Homo sapiens: one gene and its partners. Each later gene encodes a partner of the first gene's protein in a complex. Each region holds a gene or a part of one and is shown on either strand. Other genes may lie near its edges. The genes, in order: SNRPG, PRPF3, SART1 and PRPF4.

Region 1 (7,564 bases):
ATGGAGAAACCCCGTCTCTACTAAAAATACAAAAAAAGTTAGCCAGGCATGGTGGCGCATGCCTGTAATCCTAGCTACTCAGGAGGCTGAGGCAGGAGAATCACTTGAACCCGGGAGGTGGAGGTTGTGGTGAGCCGAGATTGTGCCATTGCACTCCAGCTTAGGCAACAAGAGCGAAACTCCGTCTCAAAAAAAAAAAAAGAATCAAGATGTTTGTACATCTTACAATAACCTCTAGGGACCTCTCATTTCCTGGAAGAATGTTCTGCCCAATTTATTCTGTCATTCACCTGCTTTCTAGTAATAGTTTGAGCCCTCCTGGTGCCATCTTCTGTTTGAGTCAAGACAGTCTTGGAAAGCCAAACACAGTGGCTCACACCTCTAATCCCAACACTTTGGGAAGCCAAGGAGGGAGGATCACTTGAGCCCAGGAGTTCAAGACCAGCCTGGGCAACATAGGGAGATCCCATCTCTACAAAAATAATTTTTAAGAAAGTATTAGCCAAGAGTGGTGGCGTGTGCCTGTGGTCCTAGCTACTTGAGAGCAGAGGTGGAAAGATAGCGTGAGCCTGGGACGTTGAGGCTGCAGTAAGCCATAATTGTGCCACTGCAGCGCAGCGCTCCAGCCTGGGCAACAGAGTGAGACTCTGCTCAAAAAAAAAAAAAAAAAAAAAAACTTGGCCAATCACACTACCATGTCCCTTTAATTGACCAAGATAATACATATTAAACCTGTAGCACAGGGCCTAACACATAATGAGCACGCAGTAAATGGAGGCCTTACTCTCAGCTTTTTCTACGTTCTTCCTTCTTGCCACAGGACCGCCTGGCCCGGTGCACCATGCATTGCAACGACAAAGCCAAAGATTCAATAGATGCTGGGAGTAAGGAGCTTCAGGTGAAGCAGCAGCTGGACAGTTGTGTGACCAAGTGTGTGGATGACCACATGCACCTCATCCCAACTATGACCAAGAAGATGAAGGAGGCTCTCTTATCAATTGGAAAATAAAAGTATTTGCCAGTGGCCATCAGGGCTGAGGGCAAGAATATATTTTTTATAAGGAATTGGGAATTTTAGTCTTTTAAGCAAAGTTTACGAATGAAGAAATGAAGGATGGCCACAAGCGTAAGGCATATGTCACTTGCCTCTGGACACTGGTTATTTTATGTTTCAGTCCCTAAAAAATGAAATGGAAAAAAGTGGTGCTAAATCGAGTCAGAGATATTACAGGAGAGTTTTAGAGCTTATTATTTCCTGTGGCCAGTGCTTGTCCTGGCAGTAAGGCTTTCCCCTGTAACAAGCCAGAGCCCTCCAAGGTACCAGACTCTTCTTACTACACAGGTACTAACAGGCTGGCAGGTTAGAGTTGGTGGAGTCTGAGGAGAGATATTTTCTCTTTGTTGCCAACATCCTGTTTACCAAAAGTGTCACCCCACCATCTTCCATAAGCTGTGAAACAAAATCAATGAGGTCACTAACTTAGAAGGGAAAGAAAGTTTTCTGGGTCTTTGTTTTCTTGATTTGGGGTAATTTATACAAGGGCATACAAGTTGATTTTAAGATGTGGAACTGGGAGGTAGACTAGTTTGGATAAGAACTTTGAAATGTTCCTTGTGGATCCCCATTTCTGGTCATCAAGATGTGGATGTACATTTCTTAAAATTATTACATGCTGCATCTTTCAGCCTGGAGACTGTGCAGAAACATGAGAGGTGATGACACACTAATTATGGGAAGCAGAATTACTGGCTGATGGCCCCTGAGGCTGTGTGTAACAAAATGACAGGACAATCTTGCAGTAACACTTTCCCCTTGAAGAGAAGGGGGTTTTGATTGTGATATATACTAGTATCTAGGAATGAACAGTAAAAGAGGAGCAGTTGGCTACTTGATTACAACAGAGTAAATGAAGTACTGGATTTGGGAAAACCTGGTTTTATTAGAACATATGGAATGAAAGCCTACACCTAGCATTGCCTACTTAGCCCCCTGAATTAACAGAGCCCAATTGAGACAAACCCCTGGCAACAGGAAATTCAAGGGAGAAAAAGTAAGCAACTTGGGCTAGGATGAGCTGACTCCCTTAGAGCAAAGGAGAGACAGCCCCCATTACCAAATACCATTTTTGCCTGGGGCTTGTGCAGCTGGCAGTGTTCCTGCCCCAGCATGGCACCTTATTGTTTTGATAGCAACTTCGTTGAATTTTCACCAACTTATTACTTGAAATTATAATATAGCCTGTCCGTTTGCTGTTTCCAGGCTGTGATATATTTTCCTAGTGGTTTGACTTTAAAAATAAATAAGGTTTAATTTTCTCCCCACTATTGAGTCTTCTTTCCTTATATCTGGGTGGTGAATATGTAACTTTCTCAGGATGCTTCTCCTTTTAACAGGTTAAATGAGTTAAAATGTCCAGAAGAGTGGAAATTAGTTGTTATGGTTCAGATGCAGAACTGGTTCACTGTAAATGGGAAAAACTTTGAGAGGAGACTAGGACATTGTGACTTGAAGTTCATTAATGTAGAAAAGAAACTGTCTATGAGGCTAAAAAGAGAAATTCATTATCTATGTCAGGTCTCTAGCTTCAACTAAACACTAATAGCAAGTGGTAGTAAAGGTACAAAGCTATGACCCTGCTAGAAAAAATTCAGTGTCTAGGATTTTGAGTACTAAGAGAGTGCAAAATATGTGATGAGTTTAAGTCTTTACTATCATTGATATTTATATAGAGCCATTCCAGAATATCAGGAATTAACTGAATTTTTGAGAACTATCCCCTATTTAAACACAAGGTATTCTATTTTGGTTTAGTCTTCTATAATTTTGGGGTAACAACTGGGAACAAGTCCGAGACCACTTTTTACACATCTTGACATGAAAAAAGAACACCTTATATTAGAAAATGTTTGTGTGCTGCACTTCACATTTTATATACAGGGGCAATAGCACATCAGTGAGTTCTGGAGGTAGTGTTTGAAAAATTTCAGAATTCCCAGGCATGCTGGCTAACCCCTGTAATCTCAGCACTTTGGGAGCCGGAGGCAGGCAGATCTCTTGAGGCCAGGAATTTGAGAACAGCCTGGGCAACAAAGCAAGACCTCGTCTCTACAAAAAAAAATTAGCTGGGTGCAGTGGCGTGCGCCTGTAGTCTCAACAACTCAGGAGGCTGAGGTGGAAGGATTGCTTGAGGCCAGGAGTTCGAGGTTGCAGTGAGCCATGATCACACCATGCTCCCCAGCCTAGGCGACAGAGCAAGAACTCATCTCAAAAAAAATTTTTTTTGCAAGACCCCTCAGTCAGAAATAGATTCAAATTCTTGGAGACAGACCCAGTCACCTTACTCTACAATGGTTCAGAGGCTGCTAATTTACATGTTACGGGAACCCTACTTGGTCTGACAGTATGCTGTAGGGTTACCTGCCAAAAAAATATAGAGGCCCAGCCGGGAGCGGGGGCTCACGCCTGTAATCCCAGCACTTTGGGAGGCCGAGGCCAGCGGATCACGAGGTCAGGAGATCAAGACCATCCTGGCTAACACAGTGAAATACGGTGTCTACTAAAAATACAAAAAATCAGCCCGGCGTGGTGGCGGGCACCTGTTGTCCCAGCTACTCGGGAGGCTGAGGCAGGAGAATGGCGTGAACCCGGGAGGCAGAGCTTGCAGTGAGCCGAGATCGCGCCACTGCACTCCAGCCTGGGCGACAGAGCAAGACTCCGTCTCAAAAAAATATACATATATAGAGAGAGGCCCATTCCTCCAGGGATCATTATCATTTGGTATATTGGTATATATGAAGAAAATAAGCGATACGATCCACAGACATGCGGGATTGGCCGGGTTTGCCCAGGAGCTAGAGACGGGACCGTTATCTCAATATCTCAATTTTATTTTTTAAATAGAGAAGGGGTCTCGCTATGTTGCACAGGCTGGTCTCGAACTCCTGGGCTCAAGAGATCCAAAGTTCTGGGATTTACGGCGCCCGGCTTTTTTTATTTATTTATTTATTTTTATTTATTTTGGCTGTTCCATAGACAAGAGCAGGGATAACCGGCTGGGCGCGGTAGCTCACGCCTGTAATCCTAGCACTTTGGGAGGCCGAGGCGGGCGGATAACGAGGTCAGGAGATCGAGACCATCCTGGCTAACACGGCGAAACCCCGTCTCTACTAAAAAATACACAAAATTAGCCGGGCATGGTGGCGGGCGCCTGTAGTCCCAGCTATTCGGGTGGCTGAGGCAGGAGAATGGCGTGAGGCCGGGAGGCGGAGCTTGCAGTGAGCCGAGATCGCGCCACTGCACTCCAGCCTGGGCGACAGAGCTAGACTCCGTCTCAAAAAGAAAAGAAAAAGAGCAGGGATACCCACCGGTGGAATACCCGTTATCTCAATTTTGTACAAGGAAAACGGAATTCAGAAAGGTGCCTAGAGGACGCACCCCTCCGTCCTGGCCAATCGCTGAGGACATAACCGGAAGCTCAACGATGACCGAGGCGCTGAGATATCGCGAGGTGAAATGTAAAAACTGCCAACAATCCATTGGCTAACGAGGTCGATGACGCCAGACGCAAGACGCCGGGCCTACAGCGGGAGCGTGAGGAAAGCCGTGCGTTGCGTTCCAAGGCATCTGTGAGCCCGCGGAGTATACACCATGAGCAAAGCTCACCCTCCCGAGTTGAAAAAGTAAGTATGTGTGAGAGCCAAACCGAAGTGGTCAGTTATTTGCGTCCTGCGAGTCCCTTGGTTCCCTCTCCGTTAGCCGAATGTCTTGAGCCGCTTCACTTCATTTCTTCTTCCGGTCCGAGGTCGCCGGGATCCCGGCCAGGCTCCCGCGCATGAGACGTGAAGCCCGCGCAGAGCTCGCGCGTCGGTGTGGTTACAGCCGGCAGCCACGGCACCTCCTTCCGGCCGACTAGTCTCCAGGTCCCGCGGTCTGGCCCCTGGTCACCCGGCGCTGTCCCTCGTTCCTTGAAGATCTCCAGTGCTACCTTTTGTTGAACATCTCGAATAGTATCATGTTCTAGATAGACGGCTAGAGGGGGAAATTCTCTGAAGGAACTAAGGAGGGGCTGGAAGGGAAGGAAGTGTTTTTAAAACTACGTGAGGCATCAGAATCCGAAAGCCACTTTAGTCTTAGCAAATGTGTTTGTAGGTGTTTGAGCTTTTACTTAGAAACCTCATTCCTTTTTCTTGCCTTCTTTTACGTTAAGCTTGAATGTCATGTGTTATCTTGCTCTGATGTTGAAACTATATAAGAACATTCATTTTTCTTTTTTTTTAAGAACATTAATTTTTTCTAGTCAGAGAAGGCTAATTTTTTGAAGTTTTTTCTACACACCCAGTAAAGTCAAACAACTTTAAGTAGGAGAGCCTTACTTTAGGTAGGACTCAACGTAAAGCTTTGAATTCCTCAAATACTTTTTGAGTGGACTTAACAGGTTATGTGTTTCCTGACTACGTTTCTGTTTTGCTTATACTTCCTGATGCTGGAATTCTACATGTATTAGTTGGATTGCACAAAGGATGCAAAATTTTTACAGGGATCAGTTTTTTCTGGCGTAGCATGTGGTTGGCTTTGTGTATAGTTAGTTCATTTATTACCAGGCCCATGGAAGTCAGACAAAAGGTAAAGTTCCTATTTAATAATTTTGCGGCCGGGCACAGTGGCTCACGCCTGTAATCCCAGCACTTTGGGAGGCTGAGGCGGGAGGATCACCTGAGGTCAGGAGTTCGAGACCAGCCTGGCCAACATGGTGAAACCCCCGTCTCTACTAAAAATACAAAAAATTAGCCAGGCAGGTGGTGTGCGCCTGTAGTCTCAGCTATTCCGGAGGTTGAGGCAGGAGAATCGCTTGAACCCGGGAAGCGGAGGTTGCAGTGAGTCAAGATCGCGCCATTGCCCTCCAGCCTGGGTAACAAGACCGAAACTCTGTTTCAAAAAATAATAATATTTTTGCATTTAAAGGTCCATTTGTATCAAAGCCATCTTTTGTATGAAAACTACTTCTATGTATATTTTAGTTAGGTCTGTTAAGGAATTAATTATTAAAACATAAGCCCAACGCGGTGGCTCACGCCTGTAATCCCAGCACTTTGGGAGGCCGAGGCGGGCGGATCACGAGGTCAGGAGATGGAGATCATCATGGCTAAAACGGTGAAACCCCGTGTCTATAAAAATACAAAAAATTACGTGGGCTTGGTGGCGGGCGCTTGTAGTCCCAGCTACTCGGGAGGCTGAGGCAGGAGAATGGCGTGAACCCGGGAGGCGGAGCTTGCAGTGAGCCGAGATCGCGCCACTGCACTCCAGCCTGGGCAACAGAGCGAGACTCCGTCTCAAAAAAAAAAAAAAAAATAGAAGTTACTCAGAAATTATTGTGAAAATTACTCTTTTTATCTGAAAGTTATTTTTGGTGATGTAAGTATCCTCTGGATTCATCAGGGACTGGTGAAATGGTGATTTTTTTTTTTTTAACAAAAAGACCATTCTCTACTTGTAATCTAAGATTTTCTTTCTGATTCATAACATAGTTTTTGAAAATTTCAGAGAAGGAAGCTAGTTTTAATACCTTTCTCTTCCTCGTAGGTTTCATGAATTGTGAAATCCGGTCAGATCTGCCGCCAAAATGACTTAAAAATTTTTTCTTCCTCTGCTTTCTCACAGATAGCATCTTCTTTTACACCATTATGCCCTCCTTCTGGTGTAGCATAACTCAGGTGTTCTTAAATGGGGAGTAGGGAATCTGGTGCTACCGGCTTCTAGTGAGTAGACACCAGGGTGCTGCTAAACATCCTACTGCTTATTCGACTGCCCCCAACAATACAAAATTAACTGGTCCCAAATGTCAGTAGTATAGAAGTTGAGATACACTGGCTTAACTGAATTCTTCCTTCCACTTCTTAAAATTTGCTGCCACGGTAGTCTTGCCAGTGACTGCTTTAATAATTTATCACAGTATGCAAAATCGAGTCTGTACTTAACCCAGCATTCAAGCACCAAACCTTCTAGCTGCTAATACTCAGGTATTCCGTTCTCCAGTCACACTGAACTATTTGTGTTTGCTCTCACTTGCTGTGTGACTTTGAAAAATTGCTTTAGCTTTTCCAAGCCTAGTTCTCCATCTGTAAAAACGGTGGAAATGATAGACCATAATTGCAAAGTCGTTGTAAAGATTGTATAAGATCTTGTGTGTTATATTTGATACGTTTTATGTATCTTATTAAAATATAGTTTACTTCATATATGTGTGTGTGTGTGTGTGTGTGTGTGTGTGTGTGTGTGTGTGTGTTTTGAGATGGAGTTTCACTCTTATTGCCCAGGCTGGAGTGCAGTGGCGCGATCTTGGCTCACCGCAACCTGTGCCTCCCGGGTTCAAGCGATTCTCCTGCCTCAGCCTCCCGAGTAGCTGGGATTACAAGCATGCACCAACACACCCGACTAATTTTTTTTTTTTTTTTTTTTTTTTTTTTTTTTTTTTTTAGTAGAGACGGGTTTTCTCCATGTTGATCAGGCTGGTCTCGAACTCCCGACCTCAGGTGATCCGCCCGCCTTGGCCTCCCAAAGTGCTGG
Region 2 (7,022 bases), on another chromosome or scaffold:
TTTTTAGTAGAGATGGGGTTTCACCATGTTGGCCAGGCTGGTCTTAAACTCCTGACCTCGTGATCTGCCCACTTTGGCCTCCCAAAGTGCTGGGATTACAGGCATGAGCCACCGCACCCAGCCAAGTAATCCTATATTATAAGAGTCTAAGGGTCTAGAGGACAAAAAGTCTGTAGGTCTTTACATTGTCAAGAACAATGAGATTGTAAGTATTTTTGGATGATAGTAAATACCTCTCCCTGACTCTTAGAGTAAACTTTGGTTAGTAATGTAATGGTTAATGTAAAGTGCTAGACTTTGAAGAAATGTAAGAGTGTGGAAATATTTCTAGACTCATCAACTCTACCTTTTAAGCATTCATCTATTTGTTTACTCCAGAGGCCTTTGTTTATAGAGAGGAAACCATTTTGGATTCATCTTTTTACTTGCCACTCCATTCAGGCAGCTGCTGATGCTAAAATGGAAGACATAACTAAACTTTCCCTTCTCCAGAGTTCGAAATTTGAGCAACCCAGCCAAGAAGTTCAAGATTGAAGCCAATGCTGGGCAACTGTACCTGACAGGGGTGGTGGTACTGCACAAGGATGTCAACGTGGTAGTAGTGGAAGGGGGTGAGTCTGAAAAACTTGAGGGAGACTGTCCCCAGACAACCCTAGGCTTAGAGTGATTAGCATTGTGGGGAGAAAGGAGAAAAAGATCGTATTTTAGTGCCATACCTGATATAATATGCTAGGTCTCTGCTTCTGTGTTTTTTGGAGTAGAAGGCCCTAAGATGTGGTTCCTGAGATTGCTTCAACTACCACATTAATGTCTGAGCTCAGAGGTTCTTTCTACCCCATCATCTTCCACAGTTCTGGCAAAATTATTCTTCTCTGTTTCCAGGCCCCAAGGCCCAGAAGAAATTTAAGCGTCTTATGCTGCATCGGATAAAGTGGGATGAACAGACATCTAACACAAAGGGAGATGGTGAATGGGGGTTAGAGGGGATTAAGGGGGAGAGCTATGGGAGGTGGGGATGGTGCATCTGTCCGTTCATCTTATTTCCTCCCTGTGACACTCTTGATAACACTAGATAGTGTTCAGGAATTTTAGAAAGACCCGTTTAGACTTTGAGCCTCCTAGACATTCATACAATATTTACTACATGATTATATGCATGAATGGTAAAGCTATTTTTTTGCCTATCATTTAAGGCTTTTCTACCAGCTGGTTTCTGTGTCTGTCCTGGATCTGAGTACCGGTTACATGAATTTATTCAGTATTTGAAAATTCAGCAAGCAGCTAGGCATGGTGGCTCATGCCTGTAATCCTAGCACTTTGGGAGGCTGAGGCGGGCAGATTGCCTGAGGCCAGGAGTTCGAGACCAGCCTGGGCAAACAACGTGGTGAAACCCCATATCTACAAAAAGTACAAAAATTAGCTGGATGTGGTGGCACACACCTGTATTCCCAGCTACTCAGGAAGCTGAGGTGGGAGGATCACTTGAGCTTGGGGAGGTCGAGGCTGCAGTAAGCTGTGATCGTGCCACTGCAATCCAGCCTGGGTGACAGAATGAGACCCTGTCTCAAAAAAAAGAAAAAGCAAATCTAGTAAGCTATACATTCATGTGTACAGTGTCTATATTATATTATTATTTGATTTTTTTTTTTTTAAGGATTGAAGCCAAAAAGATCTTCAGGTCAAAAAAGCTCTGCTTTGATCAAACTATTTCTTTTGTCTGATATATATATATACACACATACACATACATACACACACACACACATACATACACACATGTACACACACATACACATACACACAATACACACACATACATGTACATGTACATACTCACACATATGCTCTTCAACTTAATGATGGGGTTAGTTCCAATAAACCTGAGATAAATTGAAAATATTGTTAAGTCAAAAATGCATTTAAGGCCAGGCACGGTGGCTCACACTTATAATCTGAGCACTTTGGGAGGCCGAGGCGAGCAGATCATTTGAGGTCAGGAGTTCGTAACAGCCTGGCCAACATGGTGAAACCCCGTCTCTACTGAAAACACAAAAATTCGGGGCGTGGTGGTGGACCTCTGTAATCCCAGCTACTCGGGAGGCTGAGGCAGGAGAATCGCTTGAACCTGGCAGGCGGAGGTTGCAGTAAGCTGTGATCGCACCACTGCACTGCAGCCTAAGCGACAGAGCAAGACTCCATCTCAAAAAAAAAAAAATGCATTTAATACATCTGACCTACAGGACATCATAACAGCCTAGCCTTCCTTATACTTTCTCAGAATACTTAGATTAGCCTACAGTTGGGCAAAATCATCTAACACAAAGCCTATTTTTATCTCATGTAAGAGTATTTTACTGCATATTGCTAGCCCAGGAAAATCTCAAAATTTAAAATTTGAAGTACATTTTCTACTAAATATTTATCACTTTCACACTATACTCAAGGCAAAAAATTGTAAGTCAAGGACTGTCTGTCTATATTTGAAGGCCAGACATTCTTCTGGCCATCATACTCCCATTAGTGTTCATTCTTCTCATCTTTGAACACCTGGATTAGCATTTAAAATCTGCAGAGAGGCCTGGTGTGATGGCTTATGCCTGTAATCCCAGCACTTTGGGAGGCCGAGGCGGGTGGATCACCTGAGGTCAGGAGTTTGAGACCAGCCTGACATGGTGAAACCCCGTCTCTACTAAAAAATACAAAAATGAGCTGGGCGTGGCAGCGTGCGCCTGTAATCCCAGCTACTCGGGAGGCCTAGGCAGGAGAATCACTTGAACCCAGGAAGCGGTTGCAGTGAGCTGAGATCATACCACTTCACTCCAGCCTGAGTGACAGAGCAAGACTCCGTCTCAAAAAAATAAAAATATAAATAAAATCTGCAGAGAGTTCATCTTAAGATACCTGAGAATAAAAAATATTTTGTTCTACACGTGCATTTTTTTTTTTTTTTTTTTGAGATGGAGTCTTTGCTCTTTTGCCCAGGCTGGAGTGCAGTGGCACCATCTTGGCTCACTGCAGCCTCCGCCTCCCAGGTTCAAGTGATTCTCCTGCCTCGGCCTCCTGATAAGCTCGGATTACAGGCACCTGCCACCACACCTGGCTAATTTTTGTATTTTTAGTAGAGATGAGGTTTCGCCATGTTGGCTAGGCTGGTCTCAAACTCTTGACCTCAGGTGATCCACTCACCTCAGCCTCCCAAAGCGCTAGGATTACAGGCGTGAGCCACCACGCTGGCCGATAATTTTGATTTGGTATATCTGCCCTCCTCCTCCATTGGGTGAAAGTTTTTTGAGAGTAATATATGATGTTGACATATGAAGCCTGCCTCCCAAAGTGCCTAGGACAAGTTTTTATTCTTGACTGCTTGTCTTTTATTTCCTTATTCCCAGTACCTGGTGGAGCTCTTGATTCATAACAAGTGCTATGTAAATGCTAATTGTATCAATTAATATTACTGCCTACTTGGAGCTTCAAGTCTAATTTGGGGAAAATAAAGAGCAACAGAAAAGAGAACACTTGGTCCAACACATAAAAAGGGTGATAATATTTTAGAGAGTTTGGGTAGACTTGAATATTATTTGTTTAGAACCTGAATCTCAAGTCTAAGTCTGTAACAAGATTTCTCTTCCAGATGATGAGGAGTCTGATGAGGAAGCTGTGAAGAAAACCAACAAATGTGTACTAGTCTGGGAGGTAGGTGATCCTTTGTAAAACATTGTAAAACTTTAGCCAACTCCTGAATATTTATACTATTTGAGTGGAGCAATGGAATGTAAGATGTAATCAGTGAATAATGTTTTAAATAATTTATGTTTCTTTTTGGAATCCATTTTTAAATGGTTGGCAGTAAATTCTTCCTGATCATCTGTTTAATTAAATTCGTGAGTATTTAGTATATGCTATCTGGGGAAGTGCGTGGACAGTGCTGCTGGTAGCAGGAATACAAATTCTCTACCGAAAATTATTTATTTCACAGTCATGAATATGAGACTTGGAAACGGGAATGAATTGTTGTTGGATTTACCTTTGGATATAGTGAAGGAAGTACTAGACTTAAGAATATAAAGTTAGGAGGCTGGGCAGTGCTGCTTATTAGCTGTGCAATCTGGGCAAGACACTTAATGTCAAATTCTGTTGCCTTAGCTATTGTTCTCTATATTGTCAAGTTTTTGAGAATGAAATTAGATAATTATGTGATAGTGCTTCATAAAATGTGACTGAATCACTCTTCAAGTGGAATATTTTTTATGGTTATCTAGTTCTTTAACCCCTGAAGCCTTCTTAGAGAACCAGTATTAAAACCAGTATTAATGTTTTCATGTTTGCTTTTAGGTATAGTACATGTATATCTTTTTTTGGGGGCGGGGGGGCGGGGGGCGGTATGGAGTTTCGCTCTTGTTGCTCTTGTTGCCCAGGCTGGAGTGCGATGGCGTGATCTCGGCTCACCGCAACCTCTACCTCCCAGGTTCAAACGATTCTCCTGCCTCAGCCTCCCAAGTAGCTGGGATTACAGGTGCACGCCACCATGCCCGACTAATTTTTGTATTTATAGTAGAGACAGGGTTTCTCCATGTTGGTCAGGCTGGTCTTGAACTCCCAACCTCAGGTGATCCGCCTGCCTCGGCCTCCCAAAGTGCTGGGATTACAGGCATGAGCCACTGTGCCCAGCCCCTCCATTTCTTTTTTTTTTTTTTTGAGAGAGTTTTGCCCTTGTTACCCAGGCTGGAGTGCAATGGTGCAATCTCAGCTCACCGCAACCACCGCCTCCTGGGTTCAAGTGATTCTCCTGCCTCGGCCTCCCGAGTAGCTGGAATTACAGGCATGAGCCACCACGCCTGGCTAATTTTGTATTTTTAGTAGAGACGGGGTTTCGCCATATTGGTCAAGCTGGTCTCGAACTCCTGACCTGAGGTCCGACTGCCTTGGCCTCCCAAAGTGCTGGGATTACAGGCATGAGTCACTGCGCCCGGCCATATATCTTCTATTTTTAAAATGTGCTTATTTCTAGTATATGTGCTGCTGAAGCGAGCAGTAAAATGTGCTTATTTCTATTAATGAATTCTTTATTATAAAAGTGGTACATTATTACAAAAGTAGTAAATGTTTATTAAGATTAGAAACAAATTCTAATTATACAGAAGAGTACTTACTGAGACCCAGCACAGTGGCTCACGCCTATAATCCCAGCACTTTGGGAGGATGAGGTGGTTGGATCACTTGAGCTCAGGAGTTCAAGACCAGCCTGGGCAATATGGCGAAACCCCGTCTCTACAAAAAATACAAAAATTAGCCTGGCCTGGTGGCGTCTGCCTGTAGTCCCAGCTACTTGAGAGGCTGAGGTGGGAAGATTGCTTCAGCTTTGGAGTTTGAAGCTGCAGTGAGCTGTGACTATGCCACTGCACTCCAGCCTGGGCACCAGAGTGAAACCCTGTCTTAAAAAAAAAAAAGAAAAAGTCTCAGGCCAGGTGCAGTGGCTCATGCCTATACTCCCAACACTTTGGGAGGCTGAGGTGGGCGGATTACGAGGTCAGGAATTCGAGACTAACCTGGCCAACATGGTGAAACCCAGTCTCTACTAAAAATACAAAAATTAGTGGGGCGTGGTGGCCAGTGCCTATAATCCCAGCTACTTGGGAGGCTGAGGCAGGAGAATCGCTTGAATCTGGGAAGCGGAGGTTGCAGTGAGCCGAGATCGCACCATTGCACTCCAGCCTGGGTGACAGTGCGAGACTGTGTCTCAAAACAAAAGTCTCTTCCTATTCGCTGATCTCTTCAGACCAGTCTTTATAGGTAATTGCTATTAATAGTTTTTCTTCTGAAGGAGCAATCAAAAAATAAAAATTAAAAAAAAAGGTTTTCATGTATCCTGCCTTATCCCAGATTCTTCAATTTATGCATACAAATTAGATGATAATAACCATAGTATTTGTTCTCTGTTTTATAAGTTCCCACCTGCATATTTGTTATCTTTTTTTAATCAACTTTTTTTTTTAGAGATAGGGTCTTGCTCTATTGCTCAGGCTGGTGTGCAGTGGCGCAGTCATAGCTCGCTACAGCCTTGAACTCCTAGGGACAAGCAATCCTCCAGTCTCAGCTTCTCAAGTATCTGAGACCTCAGGTCCACACCACTGTGCCTGGCTAATTTTTTTTTTTTTTTTTTTTTTTTTTAGAAATGGATCTCACTATGTTGCCTAGGCTTGTCTTGAACTCTTAGCCTTGAGTGATCCTCCCACCTCAGCCTCCCAAAGTGCTGGGATTATAGGCATGAGCTACTGTGCCCAGCCCTACCTTCACATATCTCAGCACCCTCATCTTTCAATTTTCTTCTATTTATCTCTGAAGAGTACTTACTGAAAAAGTCCCGGCTTCTTAGAGAACCAGTATTAATGTTGTAGGAATTTAGTTTTCAGGAATTGTCTCTCATGTTCAGAAATAAGCCAAGTTCTGCTCCAGCCTCCTTATTGGAGTCTACTCCCTGAACGCCTCTTGAGGTATTGCTTTATGACTGCCATTGCTGCTGGTAACTTTGGCAAGAATGCCATTCTGCCCAGTACTGTCTTTTTCTGTTGTAATTCTCTGCTGGTACCTGCTCTTCTTCTGTTCCCCGCCCCCAGTTGTTCTTTGTTGCTGGGCCCCAAAGCCTCCTGCTTATATAAATAGTTTCTGGGGCCTTTTTGAAGGCTCAGATTTAGTCCTTAAGGCCTGGTAGGAGATAAGTTTATCTCATTCCACCTTCCATAGTTCTTCCTGACTTGCTGTTCCACCCAGGCACCAGAGCAAATAATTCCTCACTTCATTTCAAAAAACTAAAAGCCTTATGCATATGAATTCGTAAAATCTCATACAAATATCCAAGGAGGCCGGGCGCGGTGGCTCACGCCTATAATCCCAGCACTTTGGGAGGCTGAGGCGGGAGGATCACGAGGTCAGGAGATCGAGACCATCCTGGCTAACACGGTGAAACCCCGTCTCTACTAGAAATACAAAAAATCAGCTGGGCGTGGTAGCGGGCGCCTGTAGTC
Region 3 (7,022 bases), on another chromosome or scaffold:
ATAATGGGGATCTGGGGCTCCGCCTGCTCTCTGAGTTGGAGCTGTGGCCGTCGCATACTCACTCTGGCTGTGAGTTGTTAGATGGACTGGAAGATGTGCACACTTGCTGCAGACTGCGCTGTGCGGGGGTGGGTTTCTTGTTTTTCTTTAAAGCACGATTTGAGGGGCTTTGGAAGCCACAGAGGGTCCTGTTGTGCTGCATGGGTTGGCCAGGAGTGTGGGGACGAAGTGGGAGCAGGGAGGTGAAGGATTGTTCCTTCCTGTCCTGACCCCTTCTGGCCCCCTGAGCTGGAAGGGGGCAGGGTGAGTGGCTCCCTCCTCTCCCCACCAGCCATGGGCGGGCATAGCCTCACGTCTGGGCCCCCCTTCCAGAGGCGGGCACCAAGGAGGAGCCCGTGACAGCTGATGTCATCAACCCTATGGCCTTGCGACAGCGAGAGGAGCTGCGGGAGAAGCTGGCGGCTGCCAAGGAGAAGCGCCTGCTGAACCAAAAGCTGGGGTGAGGGGTCCTGGCCAGGGCAGGCAAGGGAAGGGCTGGGGAGGCCACCATCCTTGGCTGCCTCTTGAGTGGGGTGGGGAGCAGGAGCTGGGCTCCTTGAGCATCACTTTTTCCCCTCTTCAGGAAGATAAAGACCCTAGGAGAGGATGACCCCTGGCTGGACGACACTGCAGCCTGGATCGAGAGGAGCCGGCAGCTGCAGAAGGAGAAGGACCTGGCAGAGAAGAGGGTGAGCACCTGGGCAGCATGGGGTGGTCGCCTAGTGCTTCTGGTGGCCTGACGGCACTGAGGCGGGGGCCAACCCCAGAGAGGTGAGACGGGGCTTGGAGAAGGGAAGGGCCGTGGTCGGTAGCATCTACTTTGGATTCTCAGCAGCTTTCCTGCAAGGCCTGCCCTTTTTGCACTCCGCTTGGTAGAGCCCTGAGTGTTTTCTGGTGATGCTGAGTGGCCTGAAGTCCTAGGTCACCCCTCCCTGTCCCGTAGGCCAAGTTACTGGAGGAGATGGACCAAGAGTTTGGTGTCAGCACTCTGGTGGAGGAGGAGTTCGGGCAGAGGCGGCAGGTGAGGCTGCAGCAGGGGTGGTACAGGGGACACTGGTGGCCTTGCTACCGGAATCCCGAGGTTGGGTGCGTGGAGGGAGGTTCCTGACTCGCCGATTCTTCCCTTAGGACCTGTACAGTGCCCGGGACCTGCAGGGCCTCACCGTGGAGCATGCCATTGATTCCTTCCGAGAAGGGGAGACAATGATTCTTACCCTCAAGGACAAAGGTAATGCGAGCTGGGTGCCCTGGGTGGGGGCACAGCCTCTGCTGAGTTGCGGACAAGTGTGAATGGCCACTGCTCTGTGCTGCCCCCAGGCGTGCTGCAGGAGGAGGAGGACGTGCTGGTGAACGTGAACCTGGTGGATAAGGAGCGGGCAGAGAAAAATGTGGAGCTGCGGAAGAAGAAGCCTGACTACCTGCCCTATGCCGAGGACGAGAGCGTGGACGACCTGGCGCAGGCACGGCCTGGGCAGGCTGGGTGGCGGGGGCTGAGGTGGAGAATGTCGGGAATGGGGGCTCTGAGGAGGTGGTGGCTCAGTGGCTTTTCAGGAGCCAGCCTGGGTCCCAACCTGTACCTCTTGCCTTGCAGCAAAAACCTCGCTCTATCCTGTCCAAGTATGACGAAGAGCTTGAAGGGGAGCGGCCACATTCCTTCCGCTTGGAGCAGGGCGGCACGGCTGATGGCCTGCGGGAGCGGGAGCTGGAGGAGATCCGGGCCAAGCTGCGGCTGCAGGCTCAGTCCCTGAGCACAGTGGGGCCCCGGCTGGCCTCCGAATACCTCACGCCTGAGGAGATGGTGAGCCCTCCCGTGCCTTATACTCGGGGTCAAGATTCTCCCTCCCTCTGGGGCTCCTGCCCTGCCCGCAGGCACTGAGAAGACAGGGCGAGTATTTGTGTTCACAAAGCGCTTGGCCTCGCGGGTGAGCACTAAATGGCAACCGGGGGAGGCACCAGGTGTGGATGGGTCAGGGCTGCTGAGCCAGATGGGCCCCAGTCTGTTTCGGCTCTGCCATGCTGCCAGCTCGTGCCTTGGATAAACCATTTAACTGTGAGCCTGGGGCACCCCATCTGGAATGGCAGTGACAGGAGCCGCCTCCTGAGGTTGCTGTGAGGATGAGTGACAGCGTGGGTGAGGGGTGACTGGAGAGGTGTGCGTGGATTCTGTCCACAGGGTGACTGTGTGAACGTGAGGTAGACAGCTGGCGCGGTAGGCGTCTTCCTCAGTGGGTAAGAGCAGGACTCTGGAGCCAGACTGCCCAGCTCTCCCACCTAGGAGCTGGGCAACCTTGGGGAAGGTACTTAACCTCCCTGTGCCCCAGTTTCCCTAGCTCACCAGTGGAATTGAGATAGTAACCACCCCACATGTTGCTCATGTGTGGGAAGCGCTCAGGACGCTGGCTAGCACAGAGGAACACCAAAGAAGTGTTCACCCTCGAGGGCTTGTGGCGACCTGCCTTTCTGTGGCCCCCGCTCCATGTCTCGCCCCTCTTCCCTTAAGGTGACCTTTAAAAAGACCAAGCGGAGGGTGAAGAAAATCCGCAAGAAGGAGAAGGAGGTAGTAGTGCGGGCAGATGACTTGCTGCCTCTCGGGGACCAGACTCAGGATGGGGACTTTGGTTCCAGGTGGGCTTGGACACGGTGGTGGGGCGAGATGGCTGGGCTGGGGTGGCCTGGGGACCGGTGCTCACCAGAGAGGCCTCCTTCCCTCAGACTGCGGGGACGGGGTCGCCGCCGAGTGTCCGAAGTGGAGGAGGAGAAGGAGCCTGTGCCTCAGCCCCTGCCGTCGGACGACACCCGAGTGGAGAACATGGACATCAGTGATGAGGGTGAGGGCCCGGCCAGGGGGTGGGAGGGGCAGGGACAGGAGCCGCGGGTTGGAGGAGATGGTCTGAGCAGGCATCCCCTGTGTTTCCCCCAGAGGAAGGTGGAGCTCCACCGCCGGGGTCCCCGCAGGTGCTGGAGGAGGACGAGGCGGAGCTGGAGCTGCAGAAGCAGCTGGAGAAGGGACGCCGGCTGCGACAGTTACAGCAGCTACAGCAGCTGCGAGACAGTGGCGAGAAGGTGAGGCTGGGCATGGGCAGGGTGACTGCGTCAGCAGTCACCTGTCCTCACGAGCACCTGTGTCATAGGCGACAGCCACATTCCTGTCTGAAGCCTCTTTTCCATTTGTTTTTTGTTTTCTGGGTTTGTTTTTTTTTTTTTTTTTTGAGACAGAGTTTCGCTCTTTCGCCCAGGCTGGAATGCAGTGGCGCAGCCTCAGCTCACTGCAACCTCCGCCTCCCAGGCTCAAGTGATTCTTATTCCTCAGCCTCCTGAGTAGCTGGGATTACAGGCGCACGCCACCAGACCCGGCTAATTTTTATATTTTTAGTAGAGACGGGGTTTCACTATGTTGGCCAGGCTGGTCTCCAACTCCTGACCTCATGATCTGCCTGCCTCTGCCTCCGAAAATGCTAAAATTACAGGTGTGTGCCACCGTGCCCAGCCCTCTATTCTGTTTAAAGTCATGTTTTGCAAAAATTTTTAGATGCCTGCTTTAGTAGGGGATCCTTTCCTTGCCTCTCTCTTCTGTGCATGTTTGTTGAATGCCTGCTGTGAGTAGTGCATTGTTCTTGGGCTGAGAAGGTCATTGGTGAACAGGATAGCCATGGGGCCCTGGGCTCATGGAGCTGGCTTTCTAGAGTGTGTGGGGGAGAGCGTGGGGAGCAGCAGTGACTGTTAATGCAGGAACGGTAATTTCTGATGGTGGTGGGAGCTGGGCACTCAGTAAACCAAGATAACGTGCCGGGGGTTGGGATCTTAGATGGGAGAGTGCAGGGAAGACCTTTCCAAGGTACTAGTTCATCTGAGACTTGAGTCACACAGAGGAGCCAGCCTTGCGGGGGGTTAGGGGTGGCAGCAGGTGGACAGGCTGGCATTTAGGCAGTAGACCAACCAGCAGGTGTCTCAGGAGAAGTGACCTTAGAGTGCCTGAGGGCCAGGGAGGCTGGAGCAGAGCAGAGAGTGAGGGGTGGCGTGAGCTGAGATGGAGAGGTAGGGGGCCAACGCAGGGGGAGCCTTGACCCCATGGTCGTCGCTGCCCCAGAGGCACAGTGGGCCGGGCACTGCTCACATGTTCTGTGTTTGTTGATTCATTCCATCCTCCCAGCAACACCCTATGAGGAAGGTTCTGTCATCTCCATCATTCCAGAGGCCACACTTTTAGCCCTACCCCACACTTCTCACCTAGGAAGAAGCCAAGAAAGCGTGTCCAGGAGAGGGAGCAAGGGAGGGAAGCTTCTGATACTACTGGGAGGCAAAGTGGGGACAGTTGCAGTGGATTCAGGACCCGGAGGACAGGGGAGTTGAAAAAGTGAGGGCTGAACCCGGGACGGAGGCCAGGCTTACTGTTGAAGGGCTGGAGAGGACGTATTTGAGGTTTAAGGGCATATGGTCTCTGTTAGGCACCTTGAATGCTGTGCTGTTATAGGGAAAACAGCCAAGACAGTCTGTAAGTGAGTGGGCGTGGCTGGGTTCCAGTAATACTTTATTTCTAAGAACAGGTGTTGGGACATAGTTTGCCCGGCTAAAAAGGAACAGAGAAATGGAGCAATAGGCTGACAGGGCTGTTTTATGACTGAAATGAACATAAGGGTTTCTAGCCCCGTGGATCTCAGCCTGCCTGCACATTAGACTCACCTAGGAGGTTGTTTTTGTTGTTGTTTTAAGAAACAAGGTCTCGCTCGGTTGCCCAGGCTGGAGTGCAGTAGTGCAATCATAGTTCACTGCAGCCTTGAACTCCTGGGCTCAAGGGATCCTCCTGCCTCAGGCTCTCAAGTAGCTGAGACTACAGGCGTGCGCCTGTGGGTCTCAGTGTGTTGCCCGGGCTGGTCTCAAATTCCTGAGCTCAAACGATCCTCTCGCCTCCACCTCCCAAAGTGCTGGGGTTACAGGCATGAGCCACCAGGCCTGGTGTAGCCTAGAAAGTTTTTGTTGTTGTTTGAGACGGAGTCTCGCTCTGTCACCAGGCTGGAGTGCAGTGGCGCGATCTCGGCTCACTGCAACCTCCATGTCCCGGGCTCAAGCAATTCTCCTGCCTCAGCCTCCTGAGTAGCTGGAACTACAGGTGCATGCCACCACGCCCAGCTGATTTTTGTATTTTTTAGAAGAAACAGGGTTTCACCGTGTTGGTCAGGCTGGTCTCAAACTCCTCACCTTGTGATCCACCCTCCTCAGCCTCCCAAAGTGCTGGAATTAGAGGCATGAACCACCACACCCGGCCACCTAGAAGGTTTTTTAAACATATGAGCCACACCCCACACACTGTGCAGGCAAAAAAGTGGAAAGCCTATCACAGTGAACACCTTTGTCCTCTAGAGTCAGTAATTATAAACATTGTTACAGTTCTTTTCTTTCTCTTCTTTTTTTCCTGACCACTGGGAGTTGCAGATATCATGACACTGCATCCTTAACGACTTCAGTAGGCATCTGGCGAAATCAGGGCCTTCTCCCGCATAGCCACACTGCCCTAACAAGCCCATAAATGCTGTAAAACAGCAGCTCGCATGCCAACATTTTCCAGTTATCCCCCAAAATGTCTTTTTAGTTTTTTGTTGTAAGCAGCATCCAATCAAGTTTCCCACCCGCAAAGGAGCCTTTTCTGACTACCGGAGATTCTAGAGTATGTGGGAGACACATTTATGACGGAAGAAGAAAAAGATCTCGGCAGGCGGTGCTGGGGCCTAGAGTGCAAGTGGAGGGTGGGCTTGAGTGAAGCCAGCTCGTGTCATCATTTATTTCAGGAGGGAAGGTGGGGAGGGCACAGCAGCTGTGGGTGACCTTGTTTAGGGGAAGTCAAGGCAGCCCATGGCCGATTGTTCTGGTGTTTTTCCAGTGAAGAGGTGGCAGAGGTGGTGGTGCAAAGAGATGGGAGATGCTGTTCTGGAGAGTGGAGAGCAGATACACCCTGGGAGAAGAGCAGGCCTGCCAGTGGCAGTGTGGATGGTGGGATTCATGAGCTGAGGAGGGGGATGGTGGAATTCATGAGCTGCTGAGGGAGGGGGATGGTGGGATTCATGAGCTGAGGAGGGGGATGGTGGGATTCATGAGCTGAGGAGGGGGATGGTGGGATTCATGAGCTGCTGAGGAGGGGGATGGTGGGATTCAGGAGCTGAGGAGGGGGATGGTGGGATTCATGAGCTGAGGAGGGGGATGGTGGGATTCATGAGCTGAGGAGGGGGATGGTGGGATTCATGAGCTGCTGAGGAGGGGGATGGTGGGATTCATGAGGTGCTGAGGAGGGGGGTGGTGGGATTCAGGAGCTGAGGAGGGGGATGGTGGGATTCATGAGCTGAGGAGGGGGATGGTGGGATTCATGAGCTGCTGAGGAGGGGGATGGGATTCATGAGCTGCTGAGGAGGGGGATGGTGGGATTCAGAAGCTGAGGAGGGGGATGGTGGGATTCATGAGCTGCTGAGGAGGGGGATGGTGGGATTCATGAGCTGAGGAGGGGGATGGTGGGATTCATGAGCTGAGGAGGGGGATGGTGGGATTCATGAGCTGCTGAGGAGGGGGATGGTGGGATTCAGGAGCTGCTGAGGAGGGGGATGGTGGGATTCATGAGCTGAGGAGGGGGATGGTGGGATTCATGAGCTGCTGAGGAGGGGGATGGTGGGATTCATGAGCTGCTGAGGAGGGGGATGGTGGGATTCATGAGCTGCTGAGGAGGGGGATGGTGGGATTCATGAGCTGAGGAGGGGGATGGTGGGATTCATGAGCTGAGGAGGGGGATGGTGGGATTCATGAGCTGAGGAGGGGGATGGTGGGATTCATGAGCTGCTGAAGAGGGGGATGGTGGGATTCAGGAGCTGCTGAGGAGGGGGATGGTGGGATTCAGGAGCTGAGGAGGGGGATGGTGGGATTAATGCCCTGAAGCAGTGGATGGTGGGATTGAGGATTGGGTTTTCTAGGGAGGAGGGACAAGGCAGTTAAGGGTTTCACAA
Region 4 (7,022 bases), on another chromosome or scaffold:
CTCCTGACACAATGGTTTTGCTTTGGGGTAACATGAAGGTTGCCAAACTTCAAAGTAAAAAAAAAGATATTTTCTGACAAAGCAAATGTTCAGTTCAGAGTTGCCTGATGCTGTCAGCATTCCAAGCAAACTCAATAGGAAGAGGTGAAGTCTTCTTCACTGTATAACCATCGGCGTGGCTGCGGTCTACTGCTTCACATCCCATTCTCCAGGGAAAGGAAAAGTGCTCGCTATGATGCATTGTTTAACCAATGAGTGGTGAGATGTGCCTCTTTACCTGAGGGCTTCCAGACTATAGTTCAGCCACCTTGCTCTCTGGGTCATATGTAGTCCTGAAGCATGTACCATGTTATGGAAAGCCAAGTTTCAAGAATTAAAAATGCAGAGTCAGTCACAATCCTGGGTGCTGTGAGGAAGGCTATAAGGCATTCGAACAAATTTTTTTTTTTTTTGAGACAGGGTCTTGCTCTGTCACACAGGCTAGAGTGCAATGGCGCAATCTCGGCTCACTGCAACCTCTGCCTCCCAGGCTTAAGCAATCCCTCCCACCTCAGCCTCCCAAGTAGCCGGAATCACAGGCAGAAGCCACCGCGACCAGCTAATTTTAGTATTTTTTTGCAGAGACGGCATTTGCCATGTTGCCCAGGCTCGTCTTGAACTCCTGAGCTCAAGCGATCTACCCACCTCGGCCTCCCAAAGTGCTAGGATTACAGGCGTGAGCCACCACGCCCGGCCAAACAAAAGATTAATAAAAACAATGTCTACACAGTTCGTGGCAGGGCGTAAAAAGGTAATAAATTTTCAACCGTGAGAGGGGTTCCCCATCACCTAGGGATTGGGCTGCCTTCCTGGAGTGGGGGCTGACATGGAAATCCAATTCTACTGAGGGTCTATGCATGGTAATTGGCAGAAAACATGATAGAACTAAACACTTCAATTCTTCTCGTTTGAGGAAAACAGCTCCTTAGAGAGAGCTTGAGGTTCAAGTCCTTTTCCCATTGTCATCTATTCAGCCATCCACAGCTTGAAGGTCCTGTCATATGAGCAAGTGGCTATGAGCTGCCCATCGGAAGAAATATCTAGGCCCATCACTTTGCCTTCGTGGCCAGCCAGAGTCTTCAGCGGGGACCAGCCTGGGTGCGTCCAGATCTTGGCTGTGTTATCATAGGCACCAGTAAGCAAGAAGTTCCCATGGATAGCTACAGGAGAAGAGAAGGGGAATTGCTTGAGGAATTCAAGTATTCAAAAGAGAAGACAAAAGCACAAAAGTCTGCAAAAACATACTATTTTTAAAAAAACTTGTTTCTACAGACTTAAGGGAACAAATAACAGTAAGGTCTTTTGGCTCATTCCCTGACCGAGAATCTATTCAGAATAATATTAAGGACTCAGTGCTCAGAGCATCCATGGAGGAAAGAATGAAGCAAAGCACTCATGAAAGTCTGCTTTACTTCCTGCAACGAGAAGCGTGCTTTCCCACAGATCTAAGGGTATGGCAGAGGGAAGGAAATTATAATTTGCTCCTTTACCAGTAGGTCAATTTCTCTCCTGTTTTACTGCTCAGTTAAGCTAAAGCCTGGCCTGCATTCCACGGGAACACAATACTGTTTGTCTGTGTCATTTAGACGTAAAATAGGAGGAAAGCTTACGCTCAAACTTGACACCAGTCACTAAGTTCTGATGAGCAGGGATGGTGTAGACGCAACGCCGCTGTCGGAGGTCCCACACTTTGCAGGTGTTGTCACCACTGCCGGTTGCAATGTGATAGCTGTGGATTGGATGCAGTATTGAAGTTAGAAATAGAGTACTTACTGACCCAGAACCCTTTTTCGCCCCTCATTCAGTGTGTTTATTTTACCCATTGGGGGAGAAATTTATTCCATAGATTTCTTTCAGGTGGCCTTCTAAGAACATGATACAACGTCCTGTGCGTAGGTCCCAAACTCGACCAAATGCATCCAGTCCCCTGAGAAAATAATTTAGAAATGAACACTTTGAATCCAGTTCTCTGTGGAAGCAGGTATAGGTAAGAGGTGAGAGTACTGAACTGCCCCTGACTACATGGGAGAAGCCTTACCCAGTGCCAGCCAAAGAGCCATCTTGATGGAAGGCAATGTCATACACACCCATGCTATGGCCTTCCTGATGCAGGATCTCCTCTTGAGCCTCCAAATCCCATAAGCGCCATGAACGGTCATAGCTAAAACCAAATCACACTAACAATCAACCAGCTGATATTTATTCAGTTTCTACAACACATAAAGTATTCTAAGCCATTATAGCTTAAGTTATTAATGCTTCTGAAACTATTCATATAACCATATTAACAGGAAGCTCCTTTCTGACATAAACAATGACTCAACAACTAAGCTTATCTGCCTTAGGTGCTAGCTGAAAACCATGGAATCGCTGTAAACCTCTAGGGCTTTTTTTTTTTTCTTCTTTTGAGACAGAGTCTCACTCTGTTGCCCAGCCTGGAGCACAGTGGCGCAATCTTGGCTCACTGCAACCTCCACCTCCCGGGTTCAAGCCATTCTCCTGCCTCAGCCTTCTGAGTAGCTGGGACTACAGGTGTGCGCCACCATGCCCAGCTAATTTTTGTATTTTTCATAGAGATGGGGCTTCACTATGTTGGCCAGGCTGGTCTCGAACTCCTGAGCTCAGGTGATCCACCCACCGTGGTCTTCCAAAGTGCTGGGATTATAGGTGTGAGCCACCATGCCCAACCTAGTGGCTATTGTAATAACAGGATTCCCCAAGAATGGCCCAGCAAAGACTCTGTTACCTTCTTTCTTCCTCCACTGTTATATTCTTTCATTCATCAAGCATTTATACATTTACTAGGCCCTAAATTGGATGTTGGGGATACAAAAATCACTCATACACAAATAGATCAATGGAAGAGAATAGGAAGTACAGAAATAACCACACATATATGGTCAGATGATTTTCAACAAGGGTACTGAAACAATTCCAACAGAGAAAGGAAAGTCTCTTCAATACAAGGTGGTATAACTGACTATGCACATGGAAATAAAGACAAAAGAGACAAACACAATTTAAAAAACCAGGCAAAGCATATGACAGAGCACTCAAGAGCAATAATGATCAGGGTAATAAGAATGAAAATCACGGGAGATCACTACACACCTGCTAGATTGGGCAAAATGGTAAGACTGACAACACCAAATGTTAACAGGGATGTGAAGTAACCAGAACTCCGGGAATGTAAAATGGTGTAACCGCTTTGGAAAACTGGTGGGGAGTTTAGAAAAAGTTAAATATACATCTCATACCTCTACCCTATGACCCAGCAATTGTACTCATGTCCACAAAAAGCCTGGTACAAGAATATTTATAGCAGCTTCATTCTGACTGGCCCAGACCTGGAAACAGCCCAAGTGTCCATCAACAGGAGAATGGATAAACTATGGCACAGTCATAAAAATGAATAACCCCCAGCAATAAAAAGGAATTACTGATACATGCAACAACATGAATGACTCTTAACAATGTTATGCTGAAAGAAGCCTGCCACAAATGAATTCACAGTATGAATAGACATAATTAATTTGTGGTGATAGAAGTCAGATCAGCAGTTGCTTTAGAAGGGGGAGTTGGCTGGAAAAGGGCATGAGGGACCTTTCTGGGGTGATGGACTATTCTCTATATTGACAGAGGTGTCGATCACAGGAATGGTACGCGTTTGTAAAGACTGACAGCATTGTACACTTAAAATAAATCCATTCCATTGTATGTAAATTATAACTTAATGGAAAAGTTCTCTAACAGATTCTAGCCTCCCTGAACTTACAGAACCAGGAAGGGAGACTTATATACCTGTAGCATTGGACAAGAGTGAAAATCCTTGTTTTCTGGTAATTTGTAACTCTGAAATTTCAGATTAATTGTAATTTAAAGGCAAATATGGCTGGGCGCGTTACCTGTTATCTATAATCCCAGCACTTTGGGAGGCTGAGGCGGGAAGATCACCTGAGGTCAGGAGTTTAAGACCAGCCTGGCCAACATGGTGAAACCCTGTCTCTACTAAAAATAAAAAAATTAGCTGGGCATGGTGGCACGCGCCTGTAGTCCCAGCTACTCGGGAGGTCGAGGCAGGAGAATTGCTTGAACCCGGGAGACGGCGGTTGCAGTGAGCCGAGATCGCGCCACTGCACTCCAGCCTGGGTGACAGAGTGAGACTCCACCTCAAAAAAAAAAAAAAGGCAAATATACTTAGCTCTCACTATATTAAACATTCTCCTCTGATTCCAATTCCCTGCAGCCCAAGAAAATCCTACCTGAAGATCTCTGCTCTAAAAATTTACCTGGCAGATAGCCATAAAGGGTTAAGAAGATGCTACAGGCCTATATGGATAAAACAATAACAGGATGGCTCACCAGGTGGTGCCCAGGAAACGTCCTGAAGGATGCCACATTACCCGCGCCACACGCACTGTATGGCCTTCAATATCTGCCACTGGTTCATCACTGGAAAGGAACCAAACATATAAACAATTTTATAGACATATAAATAGTCACAAAACTGCTTACCTTCTGTGCAGACATACCCATTCTGTACAACACGAGAGGCTAAATTGTAACTACACTTGTAAACTACTTTGGCCCAATAAGCAAAATAGTCATTCTGCACCAAAGGAGTACCTGGATTCTAGAAAGAAAACATGCTTTGGAAGAGATATAAGGACACAGAAATCACATAGTTTTGGTACAAGTGGATTACAGATAAACCTTTTTCAAATTTAGGCCTGTTCCAAGATCCAAATGAAAAAGGAACTCCTAAATAGAGATGAGGCTTAGTCTCCTTTTGGTGGCCATTAAATTCTGCTACCCAGCAACCACCAAAAGATCTGAACATCAGCAAAAGGAAATAAACATGAACTCTAAGGAACGCAATTAAAAAGGGAACTTTGTCAATGTGCATACACAGAACAAGCCAAAGCCCAAGGGGAATAAACATTGCTAAGTATTACCAAAGCCAATTAAAACTCACTGCGCTCCTAAGTGAGACCCTGTCTGGTGAGGAGTGAAGACATTAATTAGCTCTCATAAAAATTCTCAAGTAAAAACCTTCATGTGTTTTCCCAAAGAAAGAAAACTAAACAATTAAATTCAGATGCCTTTTGGCCAACAGGGTGCTTCCGAAGTTTTTTTTTTTTTGGAAAACAATCACATAAACACATTTTTAAAAACTGTTGTAGTTGGAAAATACATTCTAGGTAAAGGATGATGCTATTGCGAGGAGACATCTCCGTGGTAATACTGCTAGACAGAACCTCACTTTCCTCTCCCCTGTGGCTGTTTGCTAAGAACCAACGAACTGCCAAGAATATTATATTTAGTTCATTGTTAATTTATCATGTAGGAGGTAGGCTGGATCTTTCTGGAATAAATGGAGCTAGGAAATAGTGGTCACTAGGCTATAGACAAAAATCAAGATCCAAAGTTAACAGGTAAGAAAAAACGGACATAACTCCTTTAGTAAGAAAAGGCCTAAGAATGAAATCTTCCACTTACTTCATTTTCACACTAGGTTACCTTGACTCTTAAACCATCTTGGGGGTTAAATGCCAGATTTTTTTTTTTGTTCTTTCAAGACGGAGTCTTGCTCTGTCACCCAAGCTGGAGTGCAGTGTGCAATCTCGGCTCACCACAACCTCCATTTCCCGGGTTTAAGCAATTCTCCTGCCTCAGCCTTAAGGTGTGAGCCACTGCGCATGGCCTAAATGCCAGATTTTTACTGAGGTCCTGGGGACCAACCAATCAAACATCTACTTTAGTGATGGCAGTATGGGCCACAGAACAGTGATATTCACCTGTCGAGACTCCAAAGCTTCACAGAGCCATCAGCCGCACAAGAGGCCAGGTTGACATCTTTTGGGTCCAAGGAGACAGTGGATTTGGGATGGAATACAATTGCTCCTACATTTGTGTTATGCCCTAAAGGAGTGTAAGAGATGCAAGTTAAAAGGTTCCTGCCTCTTTATAACCCATGTTATATACTAGGGAACATGTGGACATACAGAGTATTCAAGTGACTATTCAACTATTAAAACATGAACTATTTTAATTTAAGCTAATATTTAAATTACATTTTTAAAAAAGCAAAACACAAAAAAACCCATTTTGGTTTTTGGTTTAGAGATTATAAAATGCCAGAGTGTGACTGCACATGAGAGAAAAGTGGATGTGTAGGAAGTTGTGATAGTCCAGTCTTGCAGCCAGAGAAAACCAAGTCAAATCAAATCAAGGATTAATGCTGTGTGTATGGGGTCTGAGTGTCAAGCAGAGTTTAAGGCTTAACTGAGTTCACACTGGGAAAAAGACCGAGATTTGGATAAGACTCTAACTTACCTCGAAGAGTGTGAAGGAGGTTGCAATCAGGAACAGACCAGAGCTTGCAAAGCCCACTCCTATCAAATACAAAGGAAAGCATCTCAGCCAGGGTTGGTCTGGGAAGGAAAAGGTACCTTGGTAATATTACTAAAGGACAATCTCTTCTCACCCCCAATAAACTTTACAATGGCTGACAGAAAAATAAAAGCCTTATAGTTAGAAGGGTTATAGAAGAAAAAGCTACCTCCAGCCCACACGCAACCAGAGGCTTTTACTGGACTATAATTAACACTACACCAGTAGCCATTCTCCTTAACTTTTGGATCCACTTGTGAGGGAAGGTGGGGCAAATTAAACTATCCAATAATACGAATATTAATAGTGATACTGTCCTTAAATATGAATAGTATTTTGCTGATTACAAAGTATTTAAATTTTTTTTTTGAGAAACAGTGTCACTCTGTCACCTAGGCTGGAGTGCAGTAGTGTGATCACAGTTCACTGCAGCCTCAACCTCCCAGGCTCAAGCAATTCTATCACCCAGCCTCCTGAGTAGCTGGGACTAACAGGCGCATGCCACCACACCTGGCTAACGTTTTAAAAAATTAAATAAATTTTTAAAAATTTTTTGGGCCAGGCGCTGTGGCTCACACCTGTAATCCCAG

What was found.
Region 2: SNRPG (region 1) and PRPF3 share a complex: the UniProt entries of both Homo sapiens proteins name them as parts of the U4/U6-U5 tri-snRNP complex.
Region 3: SNRPG (region 1) and SART1 share a complex: the UniProt entries of both Homo sapiens proteins name them as parts of the U4/U6-U5 tri-snRNP complex.
Region 4: SNRPG (region 1) and PRPF4 share a complex: the UniProt entries of both Homo sapiens proteins name them as parts of the U4/U6-U5 tri-snRNP complex.

What each region holds. Positions count from the first base shown.
Region 1 is NC_000002.12:70,290,734-70,298,297, reverse strand, and holds the start of SNRPG (small nuclear ribonucleoprotein G), read left to right. Parts: upstream 1-4,557; 5' UTR 4,558-4,648; coding exon 4,649-4,680; intron 4,681-4,839; exon of another isoform or gene 4,840-5,137; coding exon of another isoform or gene 5,138-5,145; exon of another isoform or gene 5,146-5,623; intron 5,624-6,988; exon of another isoform or gene 6,989-7,017; intron 7,018-7,564. Other genes in the region: protein FAM136A, read left to right, coding at 821-1,009. UniProt on the Homo sapiens protein: Plays a role in pre-mRNA splicing as a core component of the spliceosomal U1, U2, U4 and U5 small nuclear ribonucleoproteins (snRNPs), the building blocks of the spliceosome.
Region 2 is NC_000001.11:150,345,526-150,352,547, forward strand, and holds part of PRPF3 (U4/U6 small nuclear ribonucleoprotein Prp3), read left to right. Parts: intron 1-492; coding exon 493-611; intron 612-882; coding exon 883-966; exon of another isoform or gene 967-976; intron 977-3,631; coding exon 3,632-3,693; intron 3,694-7,022. UniProt on the Homo sapiens protein: Plays a role in pre-mRNA splicing as component of the U4/U6-U5 tri-snRNP complex that is involved in spliceosome assembly, and as component of the precatalytic spliceosome (spliceosome B complex).
Region 3 is NC_000011.10:65,964,720-65,971,741, forward strand, and holds part of SART1 (U4/U6.U5 tri-snRNP-associated protein 1), read left to right. Parts: intron 1-372; coding exon 373-499; intron 500-622; coding exon 623-728; intron 729-982; coding exon 983-1,060; intron 1,061-1,167; coding exon 1,168-1,267; intron 1,268-1,356; coding exon 1,357-1,499; intron 1,500-1,630; coding exon 1,631-1,837; intron 1,838-2,539; coding exon 2,540-2,664; intron 2,665-2,751; coding exon 2,752-2,867; intron 2,868-2,959; coding exon 2,960-3,102; intron 3,103-7,022. UniProt on the Homo sapiens protein: Plays a role in mRNA splicing as a component of the U4/U6-U5 tri-snRNP, one of the building blocks of the spliceosome. May also bind to DNA.
Region 4 is NC_000009.12:113,285,644-113,292,665, reverse strand, and holds part of PRPF4 (U4/U6 small nuclear ribonucleoprotein Prp4), read right to left. Parts: intron 6,474-7,022; exon of another isoform or gene 6,458-6,473; coding exon of another isoform or gene 6,435-6,457; coding exon 6,376-6,434; intron 5,962-6,375; coding exon 5,838-5,961; intron 4,492-5,837; coding exon 4,402-4,491; intron 2,201-4,401; coding exon 2,078-2,200; intron 1,967-2,077; coding exon 1,859-1,966; intron 1,769-1,858; coding exon 1,650-1,768; intron 1,200-1,649; coding exon 1,006-1,199; 3' UTR 1-1,005. UniProt on the Homo sapiens protein: Plays a role in pre-mRNA splicing as component of the U4/U6-U5 tri-snRNP complex that is involved in spliceosome assembly, and as component of the precatalytic spliceosome (spliceosome B complex).